Linked DNA regions of Homo sapiens. The protein of the gene in region 2 binds, or shares a complex with, the protein of the main gene of each other region. Each region holds a gene or a part of one and is shown on either strand. Other genes may lie near its edges. The genes, in order: CREBBP and IRF3. A codon is read from its position in the direction of its gene.

Evidence for each region.
Region 1: the proteins of IRF3 (region 2) and CREBBP are in contact, whole or in part, in a crystal structure (PDB 5JEM), measured with the Homo sapiens proteins. Residues at the interface, in NP_001562.1 of Homo sapiens: Pro198, Gly199, Glu200, Glu201, Trp202, Glu203, Ser221, Leu322, Ile326, Leu329, Ile330, Thr333, Thr370, Cys371, Leu372, Ala374, Leu375, Glu377, Met378, Ala379, Val381, Gly382, Gly383, Ala384; in NP_004371.2 of Homo sapiens: Leu2070 (codon at 4,347), Thr2073 (codon at 4,338), Leu2074 (codon at 4,335), Lys2075 (codon at 4,332), Ser2076 (codon at 4,329), Ser2079 (codon at 4,320), Gln2081 (codon at 4,314), Gln2082 (codon at 4,311), Gln2084 (codon at 4,305), Gln2085 (codon at 4,302), Val2086 (codon at 4,299), Asn2088 (codon at 4,293), Ile2089 (codon at 4,290), Leu2090 (codon at 4,287), Asn2093 (codon at 4,278), Gln2095 (codon at 4,272), Leu2096 (codon at 4,269), Ala2099 (codon at 4,260), Phe2100 (codon at 4,257), Gln2103 (codon at 4,248).

The regions. Positions count from the first base shown.
Region 1 is NC_000016.10:3,724,493-3,730,916, forward strand, and holds the end of CREBBP (CREB-binding protein), read right to left. Parts: intron 5,383-6,424; coding exon 3,226-5,382; 3' UTR 562-3,225; downstream 1-561. UniProt on the Homo sapiens protein: Acetylates histones, giving a specific tag for transcriptional activation. Mediates acetylation of histone H3 at 'Lys-18' and 'Lys-27' (H3K18ac and H3K27ac, respectively).
Region 2 is NC_000019.10:49,662,795-49,670,980, forward strand, and holds the start of IRF3 (interferon regulatory factor 3), read right to left. Parts: upstream 3,030-8,186; 5' UTR 2,837-3,029; exon of another isoform or gene 2,348-2,836; intron 2,053-2,347; 5' UTR 2,045-2,052; coding exon 1,880-2,044; exon of another isoform or gene 1,709-1,879; coding exon of another isoform or gene 1,649-1,708; exon of another isoform or gene 881-1,648; coding exon of another isoform or gene 875-880; intron 721-874; coding exon 549-720; intron 465-548; coding exon 394-464; intron 1-393. Other genes in the region: BCL2L12 (bcl-2-like protein 12), read left to right, coding at 3,899-4,005, 4,225-4,367, 6,057-6,143, 6,230-6,321, 7,422-7,694.

The DNA.
Region 1 (6,424 bases), on a different chromosome or scaffold from region 2:
TGCCTTGGCCTCCCAAAGTGTTGGGATTACAGGCGTGAGCCACTACACCTCGGCCAATTTTTTGTATTTTTTGTAGTAGAGATGGGGTTTCACCATATTGGCCAGGCTCGTCTCAAACTCCTGACCATGTGATCTGCCCGCCTCAGACTCCCAAAGTGCTGGGATTACAGGCATGAGCCACCAAGCCCGGCCAGCACCACCTACAATCGTTTTTTTGAGACAAAATCTCACTGTTGCCCAGGCTGTAGTGCAGTGGCACGATCCCGGCTCACTGCAACCTCCGCCTCCTGGGTTCAAGCGATTCTCTGCCTCAGCCTCCTGAGTAGCTGGGATTCTAGGCGCCTGCCACCACACCCGGCTAATTTTTTTGTATTTTAATAGAGATGGGGTTTCACCTTCTTGGCCAGGCTGGTCTCGAACTCCCGACTTCATGATCCACCCGCCTTGGCCTCCCAAAGTGCTGGGATTACAGGCGTGAGCCACCGCACCGGGCCCGCATCTGCAATCCTATAATGACGAGCCGTTGAGCTAACTGTAAGTCATTAGCCAATCTGAACCATCTTTGAATCCAAGTAGTTTTACCATCTTTTATTATAAACACCATCACATTTCAAGTTTCCTCTTTTTGATCACAAATATAGGACTTTTTCTTCTCCTCTTAAGTATACAGCATGAGACACAGCGTTGGGGCTTTCCAGGTTTCTTACAGAAATTTCCTTACGACAAACTTAGGGTTAGCATCCACAGACCATGCTCTCGGTCACATCCTTCGACATCTGGATTGCCCAAGACGGTTGCACAGGATGCAGACTCCAAAGAGGATGAGGTTGGTACATAACGTTTTGAATTCCAGGATAACCTGAAACAGAGGCCCCTCCACTGCCCACATTAAAAGGCTGCACAACCAGGAGGGCGCCACTTTCTGAGTGTGGGCTTAGAGCTGCTGCTCTCGGGCTCTAGCCCCACTTCTTGTTTGAACACATGGCTCAAGGTTTCCCTACGGGTGGAAAAGATGAAGAGGACACTGGAGGTTAAGAACCCAGCAGGCCGAGCAGTGGCAGCAATCTCCACCGGAGGCCCGGCCTGTGCTTCCCCTCCTGGGATGGGGTGAATGGGGGCTGGTCAGGGGTGCCAGATGGTGGTCTTATTTTTACTTGAATTATTCTGCATTTTATAACTCAAGGTTCAAAGCTCTGTGCTAAAACTAGATCGGACCTTTCCAACTTCTTAGAAAGGTTCCTCGAATTCAGATTCCCAAACCAAGTATTCAGCTATTTAAAACCTATCTGTGAATGTAAGGGCCCAAACGGAAGCTATTTGGGGCGTGATTTCTAAAATTACCATCACCCCCACCTAGACCAGCCTTTGTTGGGGGACTAGGGATAAAGTGGGTTCTCTGGGTGCTGGGGGTGGTAGACTTAGGGGATGAACTTCAGCTCCCCTGCCCATGGTCCTCCTCTCAGTTTTACGGTTTTTGTGAACTTGTCTCACCCACTCAGTAAGGGAGCCTGGAACTGGACTCCAAGGGAGGCAGGACCATGTGGCTAAGTGCAAGTATCCCCCGAAGTGGGGGACCTTTCTCACTGTAACAGGGACCGGAGCTGGTGCTCCAAGGTGTCTGTCCCTCAGCATTTCCTCAAACGCCACACGGGACATGCTGCGCGGCAGCGGCAGGATTTGGGGGGAAGTCAGAAAGCACCTCGCGAGCCTGGAGCACTCTCTGCCTCAGATTCTGGGAGTCGTGTACGGGGGGGGGGAGCCGCCTGAACACGGGAAGAAGCGCCGCCTCTGGGGGTGGCAGCTACGACGGACAGGGAGGATGGAGGAGTGGGCCAAATGCAGTTTCAGACCAACTGACGACCCTAACTGTGTGAGCGACAATCACCTGTGAGCCTCGAATGTGTGGGGCCAACGCTGAGCCGCCCACCTCAGTCGCCCACCTCAGTCTCCGGGAAGAAAAGCCTCCGGGCGGCCGCTAAGCCTGGGCCACAGTTCCCAGCCACCACCCACGCCGCCACAACCACAACCGCAGCCCCAGCCTCTCCGCTATGAGCGAACAACCAGAACCATGTCTTACAAAGAACAGACTCAAAAAATATATATAAATAAATAAAAACCTTAAACATTCTTACAGGGATCTTAAAGAACAGAATACATGTTAAAAACCTCAGTAATTTATATCAATTTTAAGCGGTACTTTATATACAATGGGGAAAAAACACATGCATAGTCCAAATACAATGTTGAAAACAGCATTTTCATAACAAAAAACCCCGAACACTAAGTGTTAATACCATGTACATGAATTCAAGAAGGACCACCCTTTTTGTCTGTTGCACACAGTTTATTTAACAATATGATATAAGAAATGAGTTGGTATTTTACCATTCTATACAGTGATTGAATCTTCTCGAGTTTCGTATTTATAGGAATTAGAGCGCTTGCATGATTTACACTAGAATTGCTTTTCCTCATTTCAAGTTTCACATAGAAGAAAGAAAAGAAGGCTTCTTCTCTAGTAACATTAGCATGGTCTAAGAGTGATCATCCCTATTTTTTGTCTAAAACCAGTTTTATCAGAGAAACAAAGCAACAATTTCTACATCTGCAAGACAAGTTTGGCTTCAGCCATTATGTATAGATAGATGTGTGTGGGTGTGTACGTGTGTGCACGCCGGAGTCAATTCCTATCATCCAGGGTAATACTGGGAGACGCCCACAGAGTTCACTATAGAAAAAAATCTTCCCGAAACATCACAAAGTTATCGGGATACATTATAAGCTTGCATTATTTCAGGAATCAGTTCTGAATATTATTTTTCTTCTTACTTTTAAACATAAATGTTTAAAGTCTTGAAAATACAAATAAAAAATATGAATATAATGAACTTGTTTTTCCCGTTAAAAAAAGGCATGAGTCACCAGCAATGACGACAAAAAGAATCCAAACAAAACCCCCCTCCCCCCAAACAAAAACAAAACGGAAAAAAAAGAACCCCCCCCACCCCCCCGCCAAAAAAAAACCAAAGAGAGAGACCAGATATTTAAATCAACTGGTTTTTAACAAAAAAATATATTCTTTGTATTGTTTCTTTAAACATCAATCCACCCTTCCATGGCTCGGAAGTCGCAGTTCCATCTAGGAATAAAAAGAACCTAGATGCCTGGATTTTCAGTACAAAAGGTCCAAGAACATGAAAGGGAAAAGGTGATGCTCTCACAATGCTACAAGCCCTCCACAAACTTCTCTAGCGTGTCCCCCGTGGTGTCCCCGACCAGGGACAGTTCGCTGGACAGCGCACTCCTGCTGGGGGTGTTCAGCTGGGGGAGCATTGCACTCTGTTCGGGGTTCCCCAAGTGTCCCTGATCTATGGAGCTGGCCATGGTGACTGCGAGTCCGGGGTGGGGGGAACCAGTCTGGGGTGAGACGTGGTGTGGCGAAGGCTGGGGCTGTATCCGTGGTGACGGGCTGGAATGTGGAGGCTGGGACTGGGGCCGTGGAGACTGGACAGGGGCTGGAGACCGCACCTGGTTACTAAGGGACGTGGCGATCTGCTGGCCAGGGAGATGCGAGGCCTGTGGCTGTCCTGAGAGCATGTGTTGCTGGGGGCTCATGGGGTTCGGCTGGCCTGGGGACCCAATCTGCTGCTTCATCTGCTGTTGCTGCAGAATCCGCTGCTGCAGGGCTTGCTGGATGTTGGGGGTGCTGTCTGCCCCCAGCCCCGGCTGCCCCATCTGGCCAAGCTGTCCCATCTGAGCCGCCATCTGGCCCATGGAGCTGCCCTGGAGGGGGAGATGCTGCTGCATGCGCTGCTGCTGCTGCATGGCCGGTGGGTAGCCTCCGGGTCCTTGAGGCTGCTGGAACTGGCCGTGCCCCGCCATGCCCCCAGCCATGCCGGCACTCCCTTGCTGCTGCTGCTGTTGCTGCTGTTGTTGCTGCTGCTGTTGCTGCTGCTGCTGCAGCAGCTGCCTCCGTAACATTTCTCGGTACTGTGGATTCATACTCGCCATGTTGGGGTTGTGTCCTGGGTTCATGATGTTCAAGGCCTGGCCCTGGGGGTTCAGGCCTCCCATCGCCTGCTGCTGTGGAGGCACACCGGGCCGCGGCACGCCAGCCTGCATGGCATTCAGGTTCTGCAGGCTGGGCTGCTGGTGCATGCCAGGCTGGGGTTGCATGCCGGGCTGGGACTGGAGGCCAGGCTGGGGCTGCATGCCGGGCTGATTGGCCACGTACTTGGCTGTGCGCTGTTTGATGAAAGCTGCCATTAGCTGCGGGTTTGATTTGAGAATGTTCAGCACCTGCTGTTGCTGCTGAGGGGAGCTGGGCGACTTCAGGGTCCGCAGCAGGTCTTGCAGAGCGCTGGGTGAGATGCTCCTGGGTGGCTGCACGCTGGGCATCCGGGGCCCAGCCACGGCCGCCTGGGCCTGCATGGATATCACAGGCCTGGGCAAGCCTGGCATGGGCTGCTGCTGGGGAAGGGGCGCCTGCTGCCACTGCCCGGGAGGCATGCTGGGCATGACGGGCCCGCTCACCTGGTTGGGTCGGGGCACATTCAGGCTCACGGGGGCCATCTGGCTCCCCGGGGTCCCCATGCCCGTGCGTCCTGGGGGCATGCTGTTGTTGATGTTCACCCGGTACAGGTGCTGCTGCTGCTGGGCCTCACGCTCGATCTGCCGAGCCGCTTCCACCGCTGCAGGAGGGGGCTGGGCCGGGGGTGGGGGGGCCGGCACCTGGCTGGTAGGCTTCCCTGTGGACACCGTGGTGGGGGGCTGAGTCCGGGCCACGCTGGGGAAGCCAGCTGGTGACATGCTCACGGGTGAGGGTTGGGGCTGGGCAGGGGGCTGCGGCGTCTGGGGTGTGCTGGGCTGCTGTGTGGGGGTCCCGGGCGGTGCTGAGGTAGGAGAAGGCAGACTCTGCTGAGGCACGTTGCGGGTGTTCATGGTGGCCATCCGCCGGCGCATGAGCTGGGCCTGCTGCAGGCGGTGCTGGATCTGCTGCTGGCGGAGCTTGTGTTTGATGTTGAGGCAGAAGGGCACGGGGCATTTGTTTTCTTGGCAGTGCTTGGCGTGGTAGCAGCAGAGGGCGATGAGCTGCTTGCACACCGGGCAGCCCCCGTTGGTCTTGCGTTTGCAGCCCTTGGTGTGCTGCACCACCCGCTTCATCTTCTGGCAGGATGGCAGCGAGCAGTTGGCGTTGCGGCACTGGCACGCGTGCACCAGCGACTGGATGCAGCGCTGGATGCTCAGCCGGCGTGACTCCTGGGGGCTCTTTGACTGTGGCTCGCCCTGGCTGCTGCCCTCGTCATCCAGGCCCAGCCCCCACTTCACCATCTTATGGGCATGGCTCTTCGTGTTATAGCAGTTGATGCAGAGGTCGTAGTCCTGCAAGCAAGGAAAGGGGACAGGCCGGTGTCAGCATGGGACCCAGTACCACCAGGCATCCTGGCTGCTTCCCTCCACCGCTAAGTCTGGGTCTGTGCCAGGAGACCCAGGCAGGATAGGAGACCCAGACAGGATGCGAGCACGGACAGGTGGGAGACCCGGACAGGGCGGGAGCACGGACAAGATGGGATCATGGACGGGATGGGATCATGGACAACATGGGATCATGGACAGGACGGGGGCATGGACTGCCTATGTGTTGCTCCCAAGGACCTTCACTCCTGGCAACAGCCCTGAAGGCTCAAAGATAACCTGACCCATGCCCCAAGAACCCCTGGCCTGTAAGCTCACGGACAGTAGACACCAGCCCCCTTCCTTCCGACTTCCTCTGACCTGGGAGTCACATCAGCCCTTGCCACAGCCTGTCCAACTCCTGTACTCAAACTATGAAGCCAGACAGTGAAAGGCTGAGGGAGGCCGGTCCCTCCCAAAGCGCCGACAGCTGCCGTGAAGTGCCTCTGGGAAGGCCTGAGCTATCCGCAGTGCACCAGTGGGACTTCCCCAACGCGCAAGCCCAAGTTACTGAAAACTGCTCGCACCTGGCAACCTGATGGAGCCCTAGGACCAGGTACCATGACTGTGTTCACAAAAAGATATGAAAACTGCCGCATTCAGAAACTAGAAAGAGGACAAAGGAGACTGGAGAAAGGTGGAAAGCGGAAGAAGTGTGTGAAGGTGGGGAGGGAAGAAAGGCCCTCGCTCTGCTGAGGACCCGCTCTGCCCCGCTACAGACACCACAGCAAGTGAGGAGGCTCCGGGTTGGCAGGTGATGGTGACTGTCCTGGGAGGGGGATGGTGGGATCTGTCACCTGCCTGCCCTGCACAGCCTGACTCGGCCCATGCAAGGGACACCCACGTCATTTCACAGGGGGGTCAAAATTCCTAGAGGGGAGTGAGGGAGCATGACCGGGGGGTCCTTCAGGAACAAGTGGCCAGAGGGGCCCAAGCTGCCAACAGGACAGCGGGTGTTTCCAGCCATTTA
Region 2 (8,186 bases):
ACGCCAGGTGCTACCATTCCAACCCAAGGATCTGGCTCTATGCAGGTAAGACCTGGGCAAAGCAGGCTGGGTAGAATTTCAGAGGGGATGCTCCCCCAGCTTGGGCCTCAGCAGGATCAAGGTGAGGGAGTTTTTCAGTTCCCAAGAGGCTGACAGCCCCCTGCGAATCGAAATCCATGAAATCCCGGGAAGGTGTGCTCGGGCCTTGAATGCTGGGTGAAGACTTGGAATTTTCTCCTGAGGAGACCGGGGCAGGGACAGACAGGGTCAGCACTGGCTCAGGTGAGGGGCAGGCTGGAGGCAGGGGAGTGGGGGGATCGTCTAGAGGGAGAGGACAAGGCCCATGGAGACAGGTCGGAGACTGAGGGGCATGAAAGTTGGGCACATTCTCACCTGGGTATCAGAAGTACTGCCTCCACCATTGGTGTCCGGAGAGGTGTCTGGCTGGGAAAAGTCCCCAACTCCTGTTGAGAAAAGTGGTGAGGGGAGTAGGAGTGCCAGGAACCCTTGGGGCCCCAGCCTCCCACACGAACCCCAAGCTGGCAGACCTGAGTTCACAAACTCGTAGATTTTATGTGGGTCGTGAGGGTCCTTGCTCCGGTCCTCTGCTAAACGCAACCCTTCTTTGCGGTTGAGGGCAGAGCGGAAATTCCTCTTCCAGGTTGGCAGGTCTGGCTTATCCCTCCCGGGAACATATGCACCAGTGGCCTCGGCCCAGGCCTGGGGCAACAGTGGTGTCAGGATGGTGGGGGAGGACGACTTAGATCCTGCTCCTGGGGCCCTAACCCTGTCTCCCGAGTCCTAACACCACCCTCTTTCCCTGGCAAGTTCTAACTCTGCAAGGTCCATCCCCAAATCCCCCCGTCCCACCTACCTCCATCCCCCACCTCTAGTTTTCAAAAGGCTTTTTTTCTTTTTGAGATGGAGTTTCACTCCTGTCACCCAGGCTGGAATGCAATGGTGCAATCTCAGCTCACTGCAACTTCCGCCTCCCCGGTTCAAGCGATTCTCCTGTCTCAGCCTCCTGAGTAGCTGGGATTACAGGTGGGCACCACTACACCTGGCTAATTTTTGTATTTTTAGTAGAGATGGGGTTTCACCATGTTGGCCAGGCTGGTCTTGAACTCCTGACCTCAGGTGATCCGTCCTCCTCGGCCTCCCAAAGTGCTGGGATTACAGGCATGAGCTACTGTGCTCGGCCTCTTCAAAAGCCTTTGAAACCTCTTTGGTTTTTGTTTTGTTTCGCTTTTGTTTTTAAAGAGATGGAGCCTATGTTGCCCAAGCTGGCCTCAAACTCCTGGGCTCAAGCGATCCTCCCGCCTTGGCCTTGCAAAGTGCTAGGATTACAGGTGTGAACCACCGCCCCCGGCCCAAAAACCTTTTCTTTCTAAGCCAGGCTTCCAAGTCCAACTTGGTGTCTAATCCCGTGCACCACCTGCCCCGCGACACCCTCTGTGATAACCCCGCCCCTCACACTGTTTACCACCTCTGGCATATACTAATTCGGTAGTTAGGAACCTCAGATTTGGGGCTCCAGGCCTCACCTCTGATGTTTCAAGAACCATCCCCCAGTATCTATCCTACAACCAAGAGCCCCGGCCTCTAGAAAGCCCCAAACCCCCAGGATGCATTTCCTTTGCGTACTAACCGGCTTTCCCGGTTTTATTCCCGTAACCCTGCAGCTCCAACCCTGCTTGCGCCCCACCATCAGTCAGCGGATCCGGCTAGCCCCGCCCCTCCCGTTCTAGCCCCACCCACCAGCGTTGGCACGAGCCCGCCCCTCGCGCGCCACCTCCGCCTTCTCAGCCGGGCCCACTAGGAGTCCTTTCCGCCCAGCGCGCAGCTCCGGGTTTCCAGCGTCCCAGGTCGTCGCACGCACCTGGAAGATTCCGAAATCCTCCTGCTGTGCATCCTGCCGTAGGCCGTGCTTCCAAGGGATGCGGAAGCGCGTGCGGCTCTTGTTCACCCAGGCCACGCCCTCCAGTTGCCCCAGGTCCAGCTGCGACACCAGCCAGGGCAGGATCCGTGGCTTTGGGGTTCCCATGGTCCGGCCTGCGCGTATAGGGCATTTCCTGGGCGCGACCGGCCTCCCCCGGACCCACCTGGCCTGGAGTTTCCGCACCCAGACCTCCTTCTCACGGGCCACGGCACAGGTCCTTCACCCATATTTTCGGGGGTACAAACAGGAAACCTCCTCTTCCCATCCTCCCATCCTCCCGAGAGGCTCTCTAATCAGCTAGGGTTCCTTCCCATATCCATGGCACATCCTTCCCCAGCGTCTTCAGTGCAGACCCTCCACTCCCTCAATTCCGCCAGTATAGACCTCCTCCCTCCCCCACATCATCGAAAGTAAGTATCCCCACTTTCAGGGTAGCATCCTCTTTCCCTAGTTATTTCAGTGCAGAATCGATTCACGTGTAAGCCTCTACCTCCTGCACTTACCCCAATGTAGACCCCCTTCCACAGTCCCCCTACAGAAGATCTCCCAAAACATTTCCAACACAGAACTTCCATTCAATTCCCCTCCGACTGCCCGCCTCCCTCCTCCAGGACAGAGCACGCCCCAGGTTTCGAGACTGAACTACCCCCATCTACGGAGTCCACCCCTCCCTCTCTAGAACCCCCTCAGTGTAGACGCCTCCTCTTTTCCTCTTTCCTCCCTACTTTTTCTAGTTTTTCTGCAGCCGACCTCCAGCGTCGGCCACTGTAGCTCCTTCCTTGCTCCACTTTCCCCAGAGTACACAGCCTGCCTTTCCACTCTCCGTGCAGACCCATCCTCTTTCCCGCTCCTCGCTCTCGGACGCCACCAACGCTCTCCCGGGCTCTTCCGCGTTACCTACGATGGAAGGTCGGGGCGTGCGGGCAGCTGGAACCCACCCCTGTCTTGGAGCTCCGGGTAGCTCTCAAACTCGAGGCTGCGCACCCCCTTTCCCGTCAGCTGAGCTCTAGAGCGCTGGGGCTTTCTTTTTGATCGACTTCTTGAAATAAAACCAACTTTATCATTCTTTGGGTAACAGACCCAAAAGCCGATGGGACGGCCCGCTGGGCTGTTCCCGCCCCTATGCCCTTTTTTGGGTTTCCGGCCAGAGGCATGCTGGGAGCGTCACATGCAAATTGAGCGTGCACCCAGCGTTCCGCCCTTTCTACGCTGGGCCGGTTATCGACCCGGCCCAGTGCGCAGGCGCGGGAAAGTTGAACTAATAAAGTTTGTACGAGTTCAGTGGAGGAGACCGCAAGTTGAGTGGAGGAGGCGGCGGTGGGGCCCCGGACCAGGTCAGCGGGGTGTTGACGAGGGGTGGGGTGAGGAGGGAAGAGGAGGGGGCCGGGATCCAGTGGTGGGCACCCCAGTCCCGCTTCTCTGATATCCAAGGGTCCAGGGTCCTCTAGATTCCAGCAGGGGTCGGAGATTTGGAACTACACCTCACAGCAGGCTGCGCGGCGAAGAAGCGCGGACCTAGGGGAAGATTTGCCCTGAAACCTCTTGGGATTGGTAGTTCCCGATGCTTTAAGGGTTTCAGGAGTTTGGCATATGCCTCTTATAGAATCCAGGAGTTGGGGCGCTAAGCCTCTTCTTCCTGGGAGACCTAAGGGTCTGGGGCTCCAGTTCCTTTTTCTCTAAGACTCAGAAGTCCAGGACCCCAGCTCCCTCCTCCTTTAGACCCACGAATCTGGGCACCCAGCCCCACCACCTTTCCTTGGATCGAAGAGTCTTTTTCCTGATCGCTTTTTCGTCTGAGGACTCAAGAGTCTAGGCCCCCAGACCCACACTCTCCAAAGGACCCAGGAGTCCAGGCCCTCAGCACCTTCCTTGGGACTCACAAGTCCTGGTCCCCAAGCCTCCACTTCTTGCTAAACCCTTGGAGTCCAGTCCCTAACCCTCTCTCTCACAGGTGCCTCCATGGCAGGCTCTGAAGAGCTGGGGCTCCGGGAAGACACGCTGAGGGTCCTAGCTGCCTTCCTTAGGCGTGGTGAGGCTGCCGGGTCTCCTGTTCCAACTCCACCTAGGTAAGAGGAGTGGCCCTTCTCCCCCAGGGGCCAGCATTTGAGGCTCCCTCCTAACTCTTGCTCCTGGTCTCAGTCTGTCTCCTCTCTTTATATCTGGCTCTATTCTCTGTCTTTGGGGTTTTGGAGAGAGGTCCTCAGCGGGGGAGGGAGGGAGTTGGGGAAAGAGACTGCTTGCAGGGGATCTCTGGTGGGGTCAGTCTCTGAAGTCCTCCTCTCCAGAAGCCCTGCCCAAGAAGAGCCAACAGACTTCCTGAGCCGCCTTCGAAGATGTCTTCCCTGCTCCCTGGGGCGAGGAGCAGCCCCCTCTGAGTCCCCTCGGCCTTGCTCTCTGCCCATCCGCCCCTGCTATGGTTTAGAGCCTGGTAAGAGATTTCCATGATCATCTATGAAGCCGGCAGAACACGGGATAAGGTGCTAGTTTAAGATCACTCAGCTAGGGGGTGGCTGTGTGGAGTCTCTAGCACCAGCCTTCAGGACAGAACCGTCCTGTCCTCTCCCCTCCCCAGTTAGATTTCTGTCAATTCTGTGGGTTGGCTTTCAGAGAGCATTTGGTCAATCTGGTTGTTGTCTCTTTCCTTCCATAACTACTTCCCTGCCCCTAGGACTTTTGTAGCCAGGAATACCCCTGATAGAGGGGCAGAAGGGCTGGTTTTCAATCACATCTCCCTGGCTGTTTTAGTTGCGTGACTCTGGGGAAAATGCTTTCTCTTCCCTGCTCCCCTGTTTTTCCAATAGCAGAGTAGGAATTGGGGAGGAGGTCACTGGACTTGATCAAGGTGACCCACAAGTTTCCTCATAGGTGTGAACCTGGACAGACTAGTAATGGCTGCTGGGAGTGCTAGCTTGAAAAGGGGTTCACAGCTTGGGAGAGGAAGTGCTGTGATCAATTGGTGATGTCTGTAGTGAGTGAGGGAAGGGGATACTAACAGTAATGTCTTGTGTTTGCCTTCCTTGGATGAGATCATCTTCAAGGTCTAGTTGAGCTCTGACAGTCTTTTGGAGACAGATTGTTGCTCTGTCACCCAGGCTGGAGTGCAGGGGTGCAATCTCGACTCACTGCAATCCCCACCTCCTGGGTTCAAGCGATTCTCGTGCCTCAGCCTCCCGAGTGACTGGGATTACAGGTGCACGCCAGCATACTAGCTGATTTTTATACTTTTAGTAGACACGGGGTTTCGCCACGTTGGCCAGGCTGGCCTCAAACTCCTGGCCTCAAGTGACCCTCCCACGTCGGCCTCCCAAAATGTTGAGATTGCAGACGTGAGCCACCGCACCCTGTCAGCTCTGACATTCTTTTTTTTTTTTTTTTTTTTGAGACGGAGTTTCGCCCTTGTTGCCCAGGCTGGAGTGCAATGGCCCGATCTCGGCTCACCACAACCTCTACCTCCCGGGTTCAAGTAATTCTCCTGCCTCAGCCTCCCAAGTAGCTGGGATTATAGGCATGCGCCACCATGCCCGGCTAATTTTTTTTGTATTTTTAGTAGAGATGGGGTTTCTCCATGTTGGTCAGGCTGCTCTCGAACTCCCAACCTCAGGTGATCTGCCTGCCTCAGCCTCCCAAAGTGATGGGATTACAGGCGTGAGCCACTGCGCCTGGCCCCAGCTCTGACATTCTAAGTCCAGTCTGAGGATCTCATAAAGTGAAAAGTACAAGGGTTTTGGCATTTTTAACCAAGTTTTCTCACTGGGCCTCAGTTTACCCCATTATAAAATGGGAATCATGGCCAGGCTTGGTTGCTCACGCCTGTAATCCTAGCACTTTGGGAGGCTGAGGTGGGTGGATTGCCTGAGGTCAGCCTGGGCAACACGGTGAAACCCCATTTCTACTAAAATACAAAAAATTAGCCAGGTATGGCGGCGTGCGCCTGTAGTCCCAGCTACTCATGAGGCTGAGGCAGGAGAATTGCGAGACTCCGTTTCCCAAAATCAATACATAAATAAATAATAAATAAAATGGGAATCATTGCCACCTGCCAAGGTAGTTGGGGGAAGGAGAGAATCCGTAAGTTTCCAATGTCCTGGAAACCTGTCATTAACTCTTTTCACCCCAGGCCCAGCTACTCCAGACTTCTATGCTTTGGTGGCCCAGCGGCTGGAACAGCTGGTCCAAGAGCAGCTGAAATCTCCGCCCAGCCCAGGTGAGGCACAGAGGAGCCCCAGAGAAGGATGGCGGTGGGAGGATAGTCAGGGTTCTGCCCCCAGCCAAATTCTCTTCTGCCTCCAGAATTACAGGGTCCCCCATCGACAGAGAAGGAAGCCATACTGCGGAGGCTGGTGGCCCTGCTGGAGGAGGAGGCAGAAGTCATTAACCAGAAGGTGATGGGCATCTGTCCCACTCCTTGGCAAGGACAGGAGTTGCGGAATGGTGGGGCACTGGGATCAGAAGCTGGATCTGTATTTTCTTTGGATGGTCAGGTGGAAAGAGGCTGGGACAAGGTTTCAATGAAGGGTTGAGGCCGGGTGTGGTGGCTCACGCCTGTAATCCCAGCACTTTGGGAGGCCGAGTTGGGTGGATGACTTGAGGTCAGGAGTTCGAGACCAGCCTGGCCAACATGGTGAAACCCCATCTCTACTAAAAATACAAAAATCGGACAGGTGTGGTGGTGCGCTTCTGTAATCCCAGCTACTCAGAAGGCTGAGGCAGGAGAATCGCTTGAGCCCAGGAGGTGGAGGTTGCAGTGAGCCAAGATTGCGCCACTGCACTCCAGCCTGGGTGACAGAGTGAGACTCTGTCTTTAAAAAAAAAAAAAAAAAAGAATAGTTGAATGACAGGGGTATGGTTAGGGTAGTACTGTACCGTAAATTAGTTGTTTTAATTGATTGTTTAGAGGGGCATGGCCTAAATGCAGAGGGTGTGGCCATCAGAAACATTATCCACAAGAGACTGGCCAAGCTGGGGAAGTAAGTGAATGAATGTGGGGGTGGGGGGAGTGGCTAAAATCTTACTGAGCATAGAAGGGACCTGGCTTAGAATGTAGGGGAAAATGTACTACCAGAGGAGGTGTGGCTTGTGGCTGTGTCCTGGAATCTGATTGGCTTCGGAGCTTGGACAAGGTACATCGTCCTTTAATATTAATTGAATGGTAGAGGGCAAGATTGTTGTAGACACTAGGTTGGCCCCTGGGAAAGGTCACCAGGGGCATGGCTAGATTAACTCAGTTACAGTAGAGATTGGCCCTGATTGGCTGTTGAGGCAAGGGCCTGGCATGGCTTAGGGACTCACGTTCCAGGCCACTATCCCGGGGGTAGTTTGGCAGAGACCCTGGAGTCTGGCTTGATTGGCTAATATGGATGAGGGGTGGCCTAGAACCTTAGCATCTAGAACGATCCTGAACCGGGAAGCCACGCCTCCCGGCCCTCTATTGGCTGGCCCCGGGGGCGCTGCTGACGCGGACCCTGCCTCTTCCACCCTACAGCTGGCCTCGGACCCCGCCCTGCGCAGCAAGCTGGTCCGCCTGTCCTCCGACTCTTTCGCCCGCCTGGTGGAGCTGTTCTGTAGCCGGGATGACAGCTCTCGCCCAAGCCGAGCATGCCCCGGGCCCCCGCCTCCTTCCCCGGAGCCCCTGGCCCGCCTGGCCCTAGCCATGGAGCTGAGCCGGCGCGTGGCCGGGCTGGGGGGCACCCTGGCCGGACTCAGCGTGGAGCACGTGCACAGCTTCACGCCCTGGATCCAGGCCCACGGGGGCTGGGTGAGCCGCTGAAGCCTCTCTCTCCGGGCCTCACTTTACCTAACTGTCATGTGATAGAGGAGGGGCGGGGACTTCTTAGGTTCCTCTCAGACCTCAGGTATTCTCCCAGCTCCACTGCGTTCGTTCTGTTGAGCCCTTGCTGTATGCCAGGACTGCAGCGATGAGTGCAGACACTATGCCTGGCGTCAACGACTGGGTACGCTAATACTGTGAGCGTGAAACCAGTGACTGAGGTTACTCAGGGAGAGGCCGGACGGGGTAGCTCATGCCTGTAATCCCAGCACTTTTGGAGGCCAAGGCAGGAGAATTATTTGAGGCCAGGAGTTCAAGACCAGCCTGGACAACATAGTAAGACCCCATCTCTACAAAAATTGAAAATAACTAGCCAGGGTCGGGTGCGGTGGCTCACACCTGTAATCCCAGCACTTTGGGAGGCCGAGGCAGGTGGATCACCTGAGGTCAGGAGTTTGAGACCAGCTGGCCAACGTGGTG